Homo sapiens: one gene and its partner. The protein of the gene in region 1 interacts with the protein of each later gene in a pairwise test. Each region holds a gene or a part of one and is shown in the gene's direction. Other genes may lie near its edges.

What was found.
Region 2: the proteins of POTEB3 (region 1) and MACO1 interact in binary tests that used the Homo sapiens proteins (3 or more experiments, as listed by UniProt).

Annotation. Positions count from the first base shown.
Region 1 is NC_000015.10:21,423,269-21,430,549, reverse strand, and holds part of POTEB3 (POTE ankyrin domain family member B3), read left to right. Parts: intron 1-148; coding exon 149-286; intron 287-1,564; exon of another isoform or gene 1,565-1,671; intron 1,672-2,794; coding exon 2,795-2,865; intron 2,866-4,301; exon of another isoform or gene 4,302-4,522; intron 4,523-5,260; coding exon of another isoform or gene 5,261-5,265; exon of another isoform or gene 5,266-5,531; intron 5,532-7,281.
Region 2 is NC_000001.11:25,482,749-25,490,029, forward strand, and holds part of MACO1 (macoilin), read left to right. Parts: intron 1-1,367; coding exon 1,368-1,526; intron 1,527-2,864; coding exon 2,865-3,047; intron 3,048-6,424; coding exon 6,425-6,545; intron 6,546-7,281. UniProt on the Homo sapiens protein: Plays a role in the regulation of neuronal activity.

The DNA of each region.
Region 1 (7,281 bases):
GCACCCAAGATGCTTATGTCTTTTAGCGCATGTAAATGTTTGATTCTGCATGGACAGGCAAGATGTCAAATTGGTAAAGTATATCAAATTAGCTTTTAAAATAACTTTATTACAGTTTCTAAAGGAGAAATTATCTCTGTAATTTTAGAACTGCCCTCATACTTGCTGTATGTTGTGGATCAGCAAGTATAGTCAATCTTCTACTTGAGCAAAATGTTGATGTATCTTCTCAAGATCTATCTGGACAGACGGCCAGAGAGTATGCTGTTTCTAGTCATCATCATGTGTAAGTGTTTACATGAAAAGGCTAGTTAATGCTAAATTGAGGTTTAAAATAATTATAACAATTGCATCTTACATATCAGGTGAGATGTCATAGTTTGGTTCAGGTAGTTTTAGAGTGGCAGTGAGTTAGTCCCCTGCATCAGCCAGAAATCAGACAAAAAGCAAGACAAGTTAGAAGTACCAATGGGTGCAGGATTCTTTACCTCAGGACTTTTAAGACCTTTATCCTTAGAGATCCCAATATTGTTCATTTCATCCAAGTATAACACCTATGCATGGCATAAAAAAGAGTATCACATCTTTGATTTTTCTGATTAGTTATTTGGGTCTTGAAATGTCCAGTTTAGCAGAAAGCCTTGTACTGTCTTCTGGGGACTGTCTCCTACATACTCCTTGAATTTTTCAAGAACCAAAGGGGTTCACTAAATCCAAGGAAGACAGTCCCTTTTATCAAGTCAGAAGGAGGAGAGAAAAAAGGACATTCCAATCATTCTGTTGTTTCCATTGTTTCTGTTGCTGCATTGTTGCCACTCAAACTGCTTCTGCTGCCTGGTAATTGTTGACCTTTGACACCAAGGTGCCCTTACTGATTCAGATCCCTCAAGTCTTCATGGGGATTCACACAGTGACTTTGAAGTTACAACATTTTTTAGTTCCCTTACCTATGCTTATATGCTCAGCCATTGTTCCCAAAGCACCAGCACCCTGCTCTGGCCGCTGGGCATCCTGACTTTATCCGCACACAAAGTGAGCAAATTGACCCTTCCTCCTGTATTCAGAACCTAATGTGGAACCCACATCTTAGCTAAGAATTAGCTGAGACCTTCATGGTAAGAGATCCTTTCAGGCCGTTGTTGGTCTTTTCTCTAGCAGATATGAGGTGGGCTTGTTATAAAGGGTCAGAGGGGTTCAAATAATGTGGCAGAAAGAGATCAGTGTTTGTTTCTTCTTCTTTGCTACCAGATCTACACAGTGAGGCACCTTTATATCCTGTGTAGAACCTTAGGCAGTAGAAAGTCCCATATGAGCCTTCCCCAAGCAGTGGCTCCCAGCTGTGGTTGGCCCCTTGAGTGATCTGATTTACATGATAATGAAAATCGTCCAAGCTACTTCCATCTCTAGCTCAAGATTTTAAAATATTTTCAAATTGTACCTCACAGGAAGCCATTGAAGAGAATTCTCAGAATCTCACGTGGGTTAAGTAAGTAGTGATGAGTCATGGACAAGAGCCAAGCCTTGCCCATGACTCATCACAAATCATGTGTAAAAGTAGGGCTTTGTGCCTGCTTTGGCGGCACATATCCTAAAATTGGAACAATACAGAGAAAGTTAGCACGGCTTCTGCATAAGGAGGCAGCACAACTCTTTGAAGCATTCCATATTTTGTGCAGTCACTGGAAGATCATTTCACTATTTGCTGGCTAGCTCTAAGGAAACAGTGTGAATCAAAGCAAAATGGGTGCCACCAAAATATCGAAATGTGATTTGTGCTGCAAAAATAGTCATGGAAGATGGTCTGTGAGATGATTTAGAGCTGAATAATGTGTTCAGTGCAAAATATATTATAAGTATGTACGTCAAAAATTAGAGAATGTCAATTTGCAGCTTCTTCATGAAAACTGAAAAAAAATAAAAGTAGAGTTTTGGTCTCCCATGTCAGCTGGAATTGAACATCAATATAAAGCATTATCCTAACAAACATCTGCTGGCTCAGAGTTTGAGTCTGTAGAGAAGGATCATTGCTCCAAGCCAGGTCTTAACATCCATTGGTTTTTCTGCCCTTAGCACAACAAATTGGTCAACTCCGTAATAGTGGACAATCACATTATCTACTTTAATGAGAGATTTATGAAAAAATTTAGTTACAAACTATGACACAGTTGAGATGCCCTGAATGATAAGCCATAAGGAGTAGGACAACTAAGAAGCAAAATTAGGACTTAATAACATTTCCTGAAAACTACAGCATTTGCATATTAGAACCTATGAACAAAATACACATGGGGTTTTATTTGGGATTCCAAGATAATTTTAGTCATAAAGTTTAGGAACAGATTATTCCATTGCTTTACTATTTCTCTGAGCATTTAAAAAATGTTACCTTGTTAAATCTTTATAACAACCTAGTGAAATAAGGCAGCAAAGTCCTCACTTTGTAGAAGAAGACATTGAGCCTAAGAGAAGAAAGTTGTCCAAGAACAAATAGCTGTTCATTATGGAGCTAGGACTTATGCAGAGTTGGGACACTTTCTATTATGTCATGCTAATGCCTGCTGATTTACTGGGTCACAGTGCCCTTGATTTATGAGCATTTCACCTAATTTTTTTTCTTCTTTAATTAGAAGCTTAAAGAAAAGTTTGTAGAATGTACTCATAAGTGTATGGGATAATACTGTTAAATTCTGATATTATGATATTGTTTGAAATACTCTAAGAATCTTACATTTGGTAAGTATTTTTTATATCAGTATTAAAATAGTAATTTGGTTTATTACATTTTTATACATAGAATTTGTGAATTACTTTCTGACTATAAAGAAAAACAGATGCTAAAAATCTCTTCTGAAAACAGCAATCCAGGTAAGACTTGTGATAATGAATTACTTTAGGTCAGTTGTCCACAATGTTTTTGGCATCAGGGACCGGTTTTGTGGAAGACAGTCTTTCCATGGGCTGGGGGAAGGTGGGGATGGTTTCAGGATTATTCAGCCATGTTTCATTTATTGTGCTACTTTATATTATTATTACATTGTAATATATAATGAAATAATTATACAACTTACCATAATGTAGAATCCGTGGAAACTCTGAGCTTATTTTTCTGCAACTAGATGGTCTCATCTGGGGGCAAAGTGAGACAGTGACAGATCATCAGGCATTAGTTTCTCATATGAAGCACACAACCTAGATCCCTCAGATGAGCAGTTCACAATAGGGTTCATGCTCCAATGAGTATCTAGTGCTATCACTGATCTGACTGGAGGCAGAGTTCAGGCGGTAATATGAGCCATGGGGTGTGGCTGTAAGTACAGGTGAAGCTTCCCTGGTTTGCCTGCTGCTCACCTCCTCCTGTGTGGTGTGGTTCATAATAGTCCATGGACTGGTACCAGTCTGTGACCTGGGAGTTGTGGACCCCTGCTCTGGGTGGTCCTACCGTAGATAAAAAAATAAAAGTAAGGAATTTTTGATCACAAAAGAACGCCAAAGCACAAGTCATGTTACATATCCTTGTCCCAACAAGGTCTCACTCTTACTGACTTCATTCCTCCTCATTTGAAGTTGGAAAGAGATACATTTACTTTGTTGGAACAAGATGTGTTCTCTACCTGCTGGTCAATTGTCTTGATAACAGTAATTTTGTTAGAACAAGATGCTCTGCTACCATTTACCAAAAGATTGTCATAATAAATATACAAATTGCCCAACTCTAGGCTCAGCAGATTATAATAAAAGTAGAAAAATGCTTCACATTAACAAAAATACTAGTATGCCACCTGGTTGTGGACACCTAATACATTGTATAATCCAAACTGGATGAGGACACCTTTAATTTAGCCATCTATTTATCAAAAAGCTTCTGTAAGTTAGGTTTTATAAGTTGCAGAAGACAAAGATGGAATAGATGTAGTTTTGATCTTTAAGGTGCTCATAATAGAGGTGTCTCTATTTCATTTCTGTGCTTTTTCAACAGAATTTACAAAGAAAACATTTCTATGTTTTCACTTGTCCACTTAACAAATAACTATCAAATGTCTTTTAGATACTAATCATTTTTCTAATGCTACAGAACACACACAATTAAAAATACAGACAGGAGCTTGTTATTATCATTGTCACTTTTATTATTTTACTACTTTATTCAGTGCTTACTGTGTGCTAGATGCCAACTGGAAGCTTATAATTATGATTTATTATGTATTAATTATGTGCCAGACATACGTGATGAGGAATGAAAGTTTTGAAAAAAAGTAGGTATGATTCAAAGTAAGCATGCAGAGTGAGAAGAATTTTTCTAGGTAAAGAAGCAGAAGAATAATTTTTGGCAGAAGGAACATGCAACAAGTTTGTGTGTTTGCCAGAAGAACATCTGATGAGATTGCCTGTTTGGCAGGAAGAGCAACAACTGCAAAAGACAGGATGCCGAGTGAACTTTGCAGGGTTTCTGAGCAGTTCACTTTTGCTAGTACCAAAAGTGTGAGACACCAGAGTTTGGGAATGAGGTGAATACTTAGCTAAGGCAAGTTTATGATAGACTTTTTTAATACTATAGAAATGAGTAGGTCTTACCCTGTGGGCCATGGGAAATTTACCAGGTAGAATGCTTTGGACTGTAAATACTAGATGAGCAGTGGCTAAAACAGTAGGAACCAGAGTTGTTTTGGTTGTTCAGTGATATCCTAGGATCCCATTTGTCCCTCTTTCAGCTGTGCTGTTGGCAGTGTTTTCTTCATGTTTCCTTTCATGGTTGGCTAATCCGCAGCAGCTCCAAACATCTTGTTCTCACAACACAACATTTCAAGGGCTGCTTTTCTTCACATGTGTCTTTTAAACAGGGAGAAAACTTAGAAGCATGCAAGGGGCTTCCTGTAACATTTCATTGGCTGGGTCACACCACATGCTCATTCCCAAACCAGGCAATGGGATGGCAAATACATGATTAGCTTAGAATAAACATTTCTCTTTCTGAGGCTGAGGAGGGGGATTGGGATAATAAATATCCCAATAGACTTGTGTTTCTTCTGCAAGAAAGAATAAGGAATGGCTATTGATAGGAGCCAACAATGTGTGCTGCAGGGGCTCATTGGAGAAATTTGAGCAGGGGAGTTACAAGATTAAATTTGAATATTAAGGCATATTCTGCTTATGGTGTAAAATGGGTTAGCAAGCTTTTTCTGTAAAGGACCAGGTGGGAAATATTTTAGACTATGTGGTCTCTGTCATATCTACTTAACCAGGCTGTTGTCTGTTGTTGTAGTGTGAAAGCCACCATGATTATATGTAAGCAAACAGGCATGACTGAGCTCCTATAAAACTTTATTTACAAAGCCAAAAGGCAGATTGGATTTGTCCTGTGGCCTATAGTTTGCTGGGATTGATGGAAGATAACCATGTAAAGAAACCAGGAGACAAAGGAAGCTTTTGCAGTAGTCATCTATAGTTTCCATGTCACACATCCTTGGACTAGTATCAATGTATTCTAAGGTTTTCACCTGCCCATGGTGAAATAAAGTTTGGAATCCCCATTACTCATTTTAATGTGTTGGCCTTTTTTTGGTGTTATGCTTTTTTCATTTGTTTTGCTTAATTTTTTTCATGTGAGAAATAACATTAATAGTTGGAAGGCTTTTTTGTAATAAAAGCCATTTTGTAAATGTTTATGTTCTCAGTGGAAGTGGTAATATAAAGCAGAGGCAGAAGAGAGGTATAGTCAATATGATTTAGTGATAATTGAATGAGAAAGGTTTGGAGGACAGAGAGAAATGTCAGATAATTTACAGGTTTCCACGTTGTACACTAGTATTTAAGCTGGGCATGAGGAAGGAGTACGAAATTTTCTCCATGACCTGTGTGAGTCACAGCTTCCAGAAAAGAAAGAGAGCAAGGAGCATATTAAGGAAGCACAGCAAAGTCAGTCCTAGAGTGCCCTGCTTGACTTCATGTCATAGTTCTGACTTCTAAAAAATCATTTTCTGCAAAATGTGCTTTGTGTTTTTCCCCTCTTGCAGCCTGCAGCCAAACAGAATCCCTTTAGCAGGGCATTTTTGTGTTCTTCCTTTAAACAAAGCAACATATAAATAACAAAAAAGAAGTAAGAGAAAGAGTATTTTTTGTATAGGCTAGCATTTAACTTAAACTTGAGAGCGAGTACTAGGATTATACTTAGAATTTATGGACTGGGTAGGAAGACTAGATAGAAATCTAAAGATTGCTGACTCAAACACAGTGTGATTTTTTTGCTTTATTCTCACAGCTCTGAATTCACAACTATTAGTTATATTCATATACACTATAACTTTATAAAGCACCTTCCCAAACAAATATTAAGTGATTTATTATAATTTCTATGACTTATTATAGAATTGACTTTCCAAGTGTTCATGAGAATTATTGGGAATTTGCTACATAGTATCATCTCAGCTGTGTCCACATGAGCTAGCTGTCACCTTGTCTTAATGAATAATGGCTCACTAGGAATATTGGTTTTGGCATTAAAATGATCTACATCTTAATACAGATAGGACCAGGGACCACTCTTGAACGTTAATGTCTAAGCATCTTAAAGGTACACATAAGGCTTTCATAATCTGACTTCTGCCCTATTCTACATCTTTAGCCCTTTTCCCTGTGTGCCCTTTCTCTGGCATTACTGAGTGGCTCTTAATGCCCTACTCACTCCTCCTTCTATTGCAGGCAAATACTTTCACTCTTTCAGGCCTCGCTCCTGCTCTTGCTGCTGTGTGGCATGCTGTCACCCTTTCTTGCCCTCTACCACTTTTAATCTAGCTAGCCTCAATATTTAAGTCTCTGCTTGGGCAGGTGTTCTAGAAAAGCCATCCCTGACAGGCTTTATTTTCATTCTTTTTAAACCCTAACACCTAGCATGTATGTAGCAGGACTCAATAAGAAATTTCTGAGTAAAATAAAGACTGTTTTTACAAAGATGATGTGCAAGACTGTCCTCTGCAGTCTTGGAGCAGAGGGGACAGACATGTGGAGGAATAGTGTACAGTTCAGGTGGTAAAGGTGCAGTAGAAAAATCAGTGAGGTCCTAAGGCAACCTCAAGGAAGGAGTTACCTGTTTATCTGGGGAAAGATCTGCAGAATCAAGGAAGACTTCCCATAGCATTGTTTTAAAAGATGAAAACAAGGCTGGGTGTGGTGGCTCACACCTGTAATTGCAGCATTTTGGGAGGCTGGAGCAGGTGGATCACAAGGTCAAAAGATCAAGACCATCCTGGCCAATGGTGAAACCCCATCTCTACTAAAAATACAAAA
Region 2 (7,281 bases), on another chromosome or scaffold:
GACCTTGGGCTGCATCCTTTCCTAGCCTAGAGTTCTTCATCTGTAAAAATGGGAATAGGAATTGCATTTGGCCCATAGTTGTACAGATTATAGGATTAAACCCTATAGAACAGTGCCTGGCCCATAAGTTCTCATTAAATAGTAGCTGTTGTTATTATTCCTTCTGGCATATATTTAATCATGGCCTTCCTTGTCTTATTGTTTAATCATTTAAATTATGTATTTCTTGGTTCCTATTTCTTTGTTCCTAATTGTGAAGTTTTCCCATGAAGAAAGAGACTTGATTTTATAGTTTTCGTTTGTTTGTTTTTTGTTTTTTGAGACAGAGTCTCACTCTTGTCACCCAGGCTGGAGTGCAGTGGCATGATCTCAGCTCACTGCAACCTCCACCTCCTGGGTTCAAGTGATTCTCCTGCCTCAGCCTCCTGAGTAGCTGGGATTACAGGCACGCGCCACCATGCCCAGCTAATTTTTGTACTTTTAGTAGAGATGGGGTTTCACCACGTTGGCCAGGCCGGTCTTGAACTCCTGACCTCAGGTGATCCGCCTGCCTCGGGCTCCCAAAGTGCTGGGATTACAGGCATGAGCCACTGCGCCTGGCCGATAGTTTTTGTTGACCATTTTCAGCACTACATATGCATAGTAGGTCTCCAATACCTGTCACTTAAAGTGAAACTATTACTGCAGTAAAGAAAATAGATGGAACAAGAGTAAGGAATTGACGAGAAAAGATAGGCTTCATTTTACAGATGGAGTTCTCTTATGATTCTTAGAGCATGTAATTTGTTCCTTTTTTCATTGTTATTGAGTCTCGTGAGCTCTTCTGCCGCAATCACCAGAGTTGTGAACGTCATTCAGCAAGGATGCTGCAATTTCTGGAGGTCGTCGCAGACCGTTTTCTTCTAGGCCCATGGTGGGACGCAGTCTCAGACAGTAGATTCTGATTTATCAAAATATCACAAAGCATTAAGTGGTAGGTCATGTGCTAGTTGTTTGAACATATTTCCCTTGCTGAGGGCATGAAAAGCCACCAGAAGGGAGCCTTTAGTCTTCAGCCACCCTCTCTGCTGTCCCTTTCTCCTTTATCAGCAGCTCGGATGGATATTCACAAGCACCATACTCACCTGTCACTATTCATAAACAGGGGGAAGTTGAAAGTTACACCCCAGTAGGAAGAGGTAGGGACCCAGGTGGAATCATTCAACAAAATTAACCCAGTTGCAGACAGGAGTCCTCATCATGGCAGGAACTGCCAGCGGGGTCCTTTTTCTGCCATTCACCCAGCAGTCCAGGACCCCCACCAGGTCCCTCCCAGCTCTGTGGGTGCCCTCACCTAGATGAAAATGCTGCATTTCTCATTCTCCTAGGCTGGAACAAGACATTAAAAAGTTAAAGGCTGACCTGCAAGCCAGCAGACAAGTGGAACAAGAGCTCCGCAGTCAGATCAGCTCCCTTTCGAGCACCGAGCGAGGGATCCGCTCAGAAATGGGCCAGCTTCGGCAGGAGAACGAGCTGCTGCAGAACAAGTACGTGCACCTTTCAGGCCTTTGGCCGTAAGCCCGGCAGCTTCACTGCTTCTCCTGTTGCCAGGGGTTGGAGCACAAGATTTATGGTGACAGAGACCTGCTGAGAGGTTTTTAAATAAAATGTTTAAAATACTTTATTTAGTACCAGATATTCAACATGTTTATAAAATCTATAAAAACTTATTTCATTGCCACAAAACAGTTTATTAATATTACTGTTTTTGTCTTCTCTCATTTAATAACTTCTTAGTTTAAAATAGTTATTGAGTTTTTGGATAGTAAAATTGACAAGAAGTAGTTCTGTCACATTTTGAAAATTTTGCTCCTTTGAGTGAAAATTTCTAGAGGATTTGACTATATTTACTTTTATTTCCAGAACTAAAAGATGACATTGAACTTTGATTTTATTTGAAAAGGCAGGCAGAAAGCCAGGTCTTCTGTGTGAATTCATTTAGGCTTTTGATTAGTTCATTCTGGAATTACTTCTTAACTCAGTGTAGGTCTGTCCTTTTTTCTTTTTTTAAATCTCCCAGCAATGTGTGCCCGTGGTAGTGATGATCATTACAGGCTGTTGGCTTTCTGGGCTTTCCCTGTTGAAAGAGGAGTTCAACATTTTTAAGGAATGTAACTCAAAAGCTAGGGCATTACAGGCAAATAACCTCTCCATTGCCTCTGACCAGCATTTGTGGTGGTTCTAGCATTGATATGTAGAGAACATCCCAGTGATAAACTCACCTCATGCTGATAGGTAAAGCTGGGGGTGGTAGTAAGCAGGAAATATGGCTGAAATTTCTATCTGAAATTAAGCATCCTGTGACTCTAAAAGAGGATTTGGGGACACTGTGAGCAAACATCCTGAGCTGGAAAGGAAAAGCTGTAGTAGGCTACAGCAAAATTGTATTCAGGAAAAATAAAAACCTTCCCCTTTCCACCCCTTACCTTAGTTTCACTGGGGCTGGTCCCATCAGTGGTTCTTTGGTGGGACTGAAGTTCTTTCAGGGTGCTCTGGAACATTAGAATTAGTTCTACAATTATCTTCCCCTCTGTTCAAAATTTGTTTTACCCTGTTTTCTGGATGACCTTTTGTAGATCACTTACTTGAACAGAGCAGAGGCTAGGTCTTAATCTCTGTTTTGTAAGGCAGCTTGTTTATTGGTGTTTAGGAATTATTAAAGAATAACAGTGTGTTTTCCTCAGGCATTCTGGGCATTGACATTTTTGATTTGCTGTTCAAACCTCCTGTTTAATTGGCCTTAAGGTGATAAAGAGATGTTTCTCAAGGGTTTATAGTGGGCATTTGTAATTTTAAGACTTTATATGACAATCATTTCCATATAGGTTACATAATGCTGTGCAAATGAAGCAAAAAGACAAGCAGAATATCAGCCAGTTGGAGAAAAAGCTAAAAGCTGAGCAGGAAGCCCGAAGTTTTGTAGAGAAACAGTTAATGGAAGAGAAAAAGAGGAAGAAGTTAGAAGAAGCCACTGCTGCCCGGGCTGTTGCGTTTGCTGCTGCATCTAGGTATGTCCATGTCACCTGAGTGTTTAATCCAAGGTTGGCTTTCCTTTACCAACAAAGACATGGGAATTTGGTGCCTTGGGCAGGATTGGACGTACAGCAATCATGCACGGATGGATTGCTTTTAAGTACTGTTTTATTAACTGGTTTAAACTCCATGTGTGCAAGCTTGCACTATCTTATAACAGCTTTATCCCTCAGTGACCTCATCTATAAAGTGGGATGAGGGAATCACCATGTTTCCCATACCTGGGAGGCAAAGTACTGCTCATAAAAAGGTTTCCAGTCACTTTTTGTCAGACTGATGATTACTAAATGCATTGAGAGATTCTATCTGGAAGTTCGTTCCCTTTAGAGAGCTATCATTACTCTCCACTCTTAGGTATATGTGTTTCTGAAGTTTTTATCTTAAAATGGAAGAAAGATAAAATCTTGGTTGCCCAAGCACTGTGTACTGGCTGCTCAAATGGATATCAGCAAACTGTCAAATGAAATGGAAAAAAAAAGTGAAACATAAGTCTCTACTAGATGGAATTACATTTATGGCATAATGAAAATTGGGGACTACCTCCTATACCACTGGAAAGTACCCCTGTGTGCAAGTATTCCAAAAACTATTAGATAGTTAAGAGCTTTTTTTTTCTTTTTGCTTCTACTTCACTTATCACTTTTTCCTTTGTTTTCTTGACTAGTGAAGTCCCTCTGCATGTGGGAATCAGTTAGGTGTTTGCAGATATAGAGCGAGGGTAAATTATTATTTATTTCACTTTTAAATTCCATCCTAATTTGTATCTACGTGGTATAATTCAACTGTAATTTTTCCTTGAATTTTGCTTTGTCGTAATTAAAGTTAAGTAATTTAACTTTTGGCATGTTGATAGCCTTCTTTGTGGGTTCTGGCATTTGCAGAATAATTGGTGAATCATTTCACCTTTTAGGAAATAACAGCAAGTGAGAACTCTCTCCTGTGTGATCCTGCCTCCCCCCAGCAGATGGCTGAGCTGGCTTGGCCCATCAGCATCTATACAGACTTACAAGGCCCTTGACTAGCCTGCCTACAATGTGGGATTGTTTGTTTGTTTGAAGATGTATTTGCATTCTGAAGCACTTAAACTTGCAGGAGATGTTCTTGAACAGTCATCTAGTGATGACTGCTCTCCTCTCTCCTCAATTCATACAGCACCTGCCCTTTCTGAAAAATTCCACTCAGGAGGACATAGCAGTTCCTTAACGATATTGCTTAGTGTCTCCCATGCCTGAGAATCAGTAAGTTGATTTCAGTGTCTACCCCAAATCCCTTTTGCTTCCAGTTAAGCTTATTTATCTTATCCCTGGATAGTCCTTGTTTTTCATAACTTATTCTTTTTTTCCTTCTTTTTGAGACGGAGTCTAACTCTGTCACCCAGGCTGGAGTGCAGTGGCGCGATCTCAGCTCACTGCAGCCTTTGCCACCCAGGTTCAAGCGATTCTCCTGCCTCAGCCTCCCAAGTAGCTGGGATTACAGGCTCCTGCCACCGTGCCCAGCAACTTTTTGTATTTTTAGTAGAGACGAGGTTTCACCATCTTGGCAGGCTGGTCTCGAACTCCTGACCTCAGGTGATCTGCCCACCTTGACCTCCCAAAGTGCTGGGATTACAGGCGTGAGCCACCACACCAGGCCTGCCATAATTTATTCAGTAAATCTCAGGGCATAAATCTCTGACTGGACCTTCCGTTTTGGTAGGCAGAGAACACCTACTTTCTTCATTGGGCTGTTTCTGGAACCTAGACAGTACCAGCTTTGGACTGGCCATTGCCATCATCTCTTTTAGCTCAACCTTATGATAGCCCTGAGAAGCAGCTCAACAGTGTGCCCTTATTTTTCTGTTTACTCCAGTCTTGTGGCAACTTTATGACAAGAAAGACAAAAGTCCCAATGCGTAGCCCCTCAAAAGTGGGGGGAAAATTTTTTTCTAGTTCACCGCCCCCTGCTGGACATAGTACATGTTCAGTTCTATCTGGCTTTGTGTGTATTGTCTCAAGTCTCATGGCCTGGTGGGAAGTTTGCTGGATTGGGAAGCCAGAAAATCTCAGTTCTTATCCCTATTCTAAGACCTAAAAGCTAGGTAACCTTGAACTAGTATTTTATCTATGTAGCCTCAGTTTTCTTATCTGGAAAATGGGATAAATATACCCTAGGTTGTTATAAGGATTGAAGAAGGTAGTATGGGTAAAGTACCTTAGTGTCTGGCTCATCTAGACACTCAGTAATAATTATTGTATATATGTATGTATTTTGAGACAGGATATCATTCTGTCACCCAGACTGGAGTGCAATGGTGCAGTCATAGCTTACTATAACCTGAAACTCCTGGGCTCAAGTTGTCCTCTTGCCTCAGCCTCCTGAGTAGCTGGGACTACAGGCATGTGCTACTATGCCCAGCTATTTTTTAAATTTTTTGTAGAGACAGGGTCTCTCTGTGTTGCCCAGGCTGATCTCAGACTCTGGGCTCAAGCAGTCCTCCCACCTTGGCCTTGGGAGTGCTGGGATTACGGGCATGAGCCACCATGCCCAGCCCAGTTATTTTAGAGTATTATTGAAATTATCAAAGGACACAGAGAACTGAGCAGACTGAGCCAAAAGCTAAAACCTGACAGACCCTGGAGTATAAAAGAAATTAAAAGAAATATAAATCCCACAATACAAGTAAACCTATAGTCTTTTTTTTTTCTTTTTTTTGAGACAGAGTCTCACTTTGTCACCCAGGCTAACGTGCTGTGACACCATCTCAGCTCAGTGCAGCCTCTGCCTCCCAGGTACAAGCAATTCTCCTGCCTCGGCCTCCCGAGTAGCTGGGATTACAGATGTGTGCCACTACACCCAGCTAATTTTTGTAGAGAGAGGGTTTCACTGTGTTGGCCAGGCTGGTCTTGAACTCCTGACCTCAAGTGATCCACCTGCCTTGGCCTCCCAAATTGCTGTGATTACAGGCGTGAGCCACTGCACTCGGCCAACCTATAGTCTTTTTTAAAATTTTATTTATTTATTTATTTATTTGTTTTTGAGATGGAGTCTCACTCGGACGCCCAAGCTGGAGTGCAGTGGCACGATCTGGACTCGCTGCAACCTCCACCTCCTGGGTTCAAGCAATTCTTCTGCCTCAGCCTCCCCAGTAGCTGGGACTACAGGCATGTACCACCATGCCCAGCCAATTTTTTTTGTATTTTTAGTAGAGACGGGGTTTCACCATGCTGGTCAGGTTGGTCTCGAACCCCTGACCTCAAATAATCTGCCTGCCTCGGCCTCCCAAAGTGCTGGGATTACAGGCCTGAGTCACAGGGCCCAGCCCCAACCTATAGTCTTTTAAATCACTTTATTTCCTTCTCTTCTTTTTCAAAAGGGGAGAATGCACCGAAACCTTACGGAATCGGATCAGAGAACTAGAAGCAGAGGGCAAGAAGCTCACGATGGACATGAAGGTGAAAGAAGACCAAATCAGAGAACTAGAACTAAAAGTCCAGGTAAGGGGGGAACAAAAGACTTCCCTTGTATTTGAATTCCACTTTTATGCTAAACTTGTGCTCTGTGTTGCAGTGTAGAGATGATGCCTTTTAATATAGATCAAATCTCATTGCATCTGAAAAATCTCTATGTGACAAAAAGATTTGAAGTTCTAATCTTGTCCAGCTCATTTCAAGTCATATTAATGTAGCCAGATTCTAATACAAACCAGAAATGTTGACAATCCCTTGGTATGTTTTATACCAGGATTTAACTTGCTGTAGATTCATTTAACTTTTTCAGGTTATAGGCCAGATTAGTGTCCTTTGAAACTTACACACCTCCTTTTAGCCCCAACCCTCTTTCTATTGCCAGGGGACTGACCCTCCTGCATGGCTCTGAGCCTTGCAGATTGTTGTTCATAGCAGTGAATGATAGGAAAGGTGCTAGTGCTATGGACGTAGCCTGTTTTATGGGCTGTGTATACTTTAGCCAAATATTTGTCATTTAAACTAATGTCATATATTGTAAAGTTACAGTAATTTGAGCCAGGTGGGACAAGTGAAAAATTACTGTCAAGTCAGTGGACTAGAATGATGGCCTGGAGTACAGTACCGAAAAAAATACGAAAAAAAGTAAAGGTGGCATCAGAGATAGATGGGAAAGGTAACGATTAGTCAGTAAAAGGCTTTGGAATAGCTAAATAACTGGAGAAAAAAAATTAGAAACTCATCTCATGCCACATATAAAGAAATT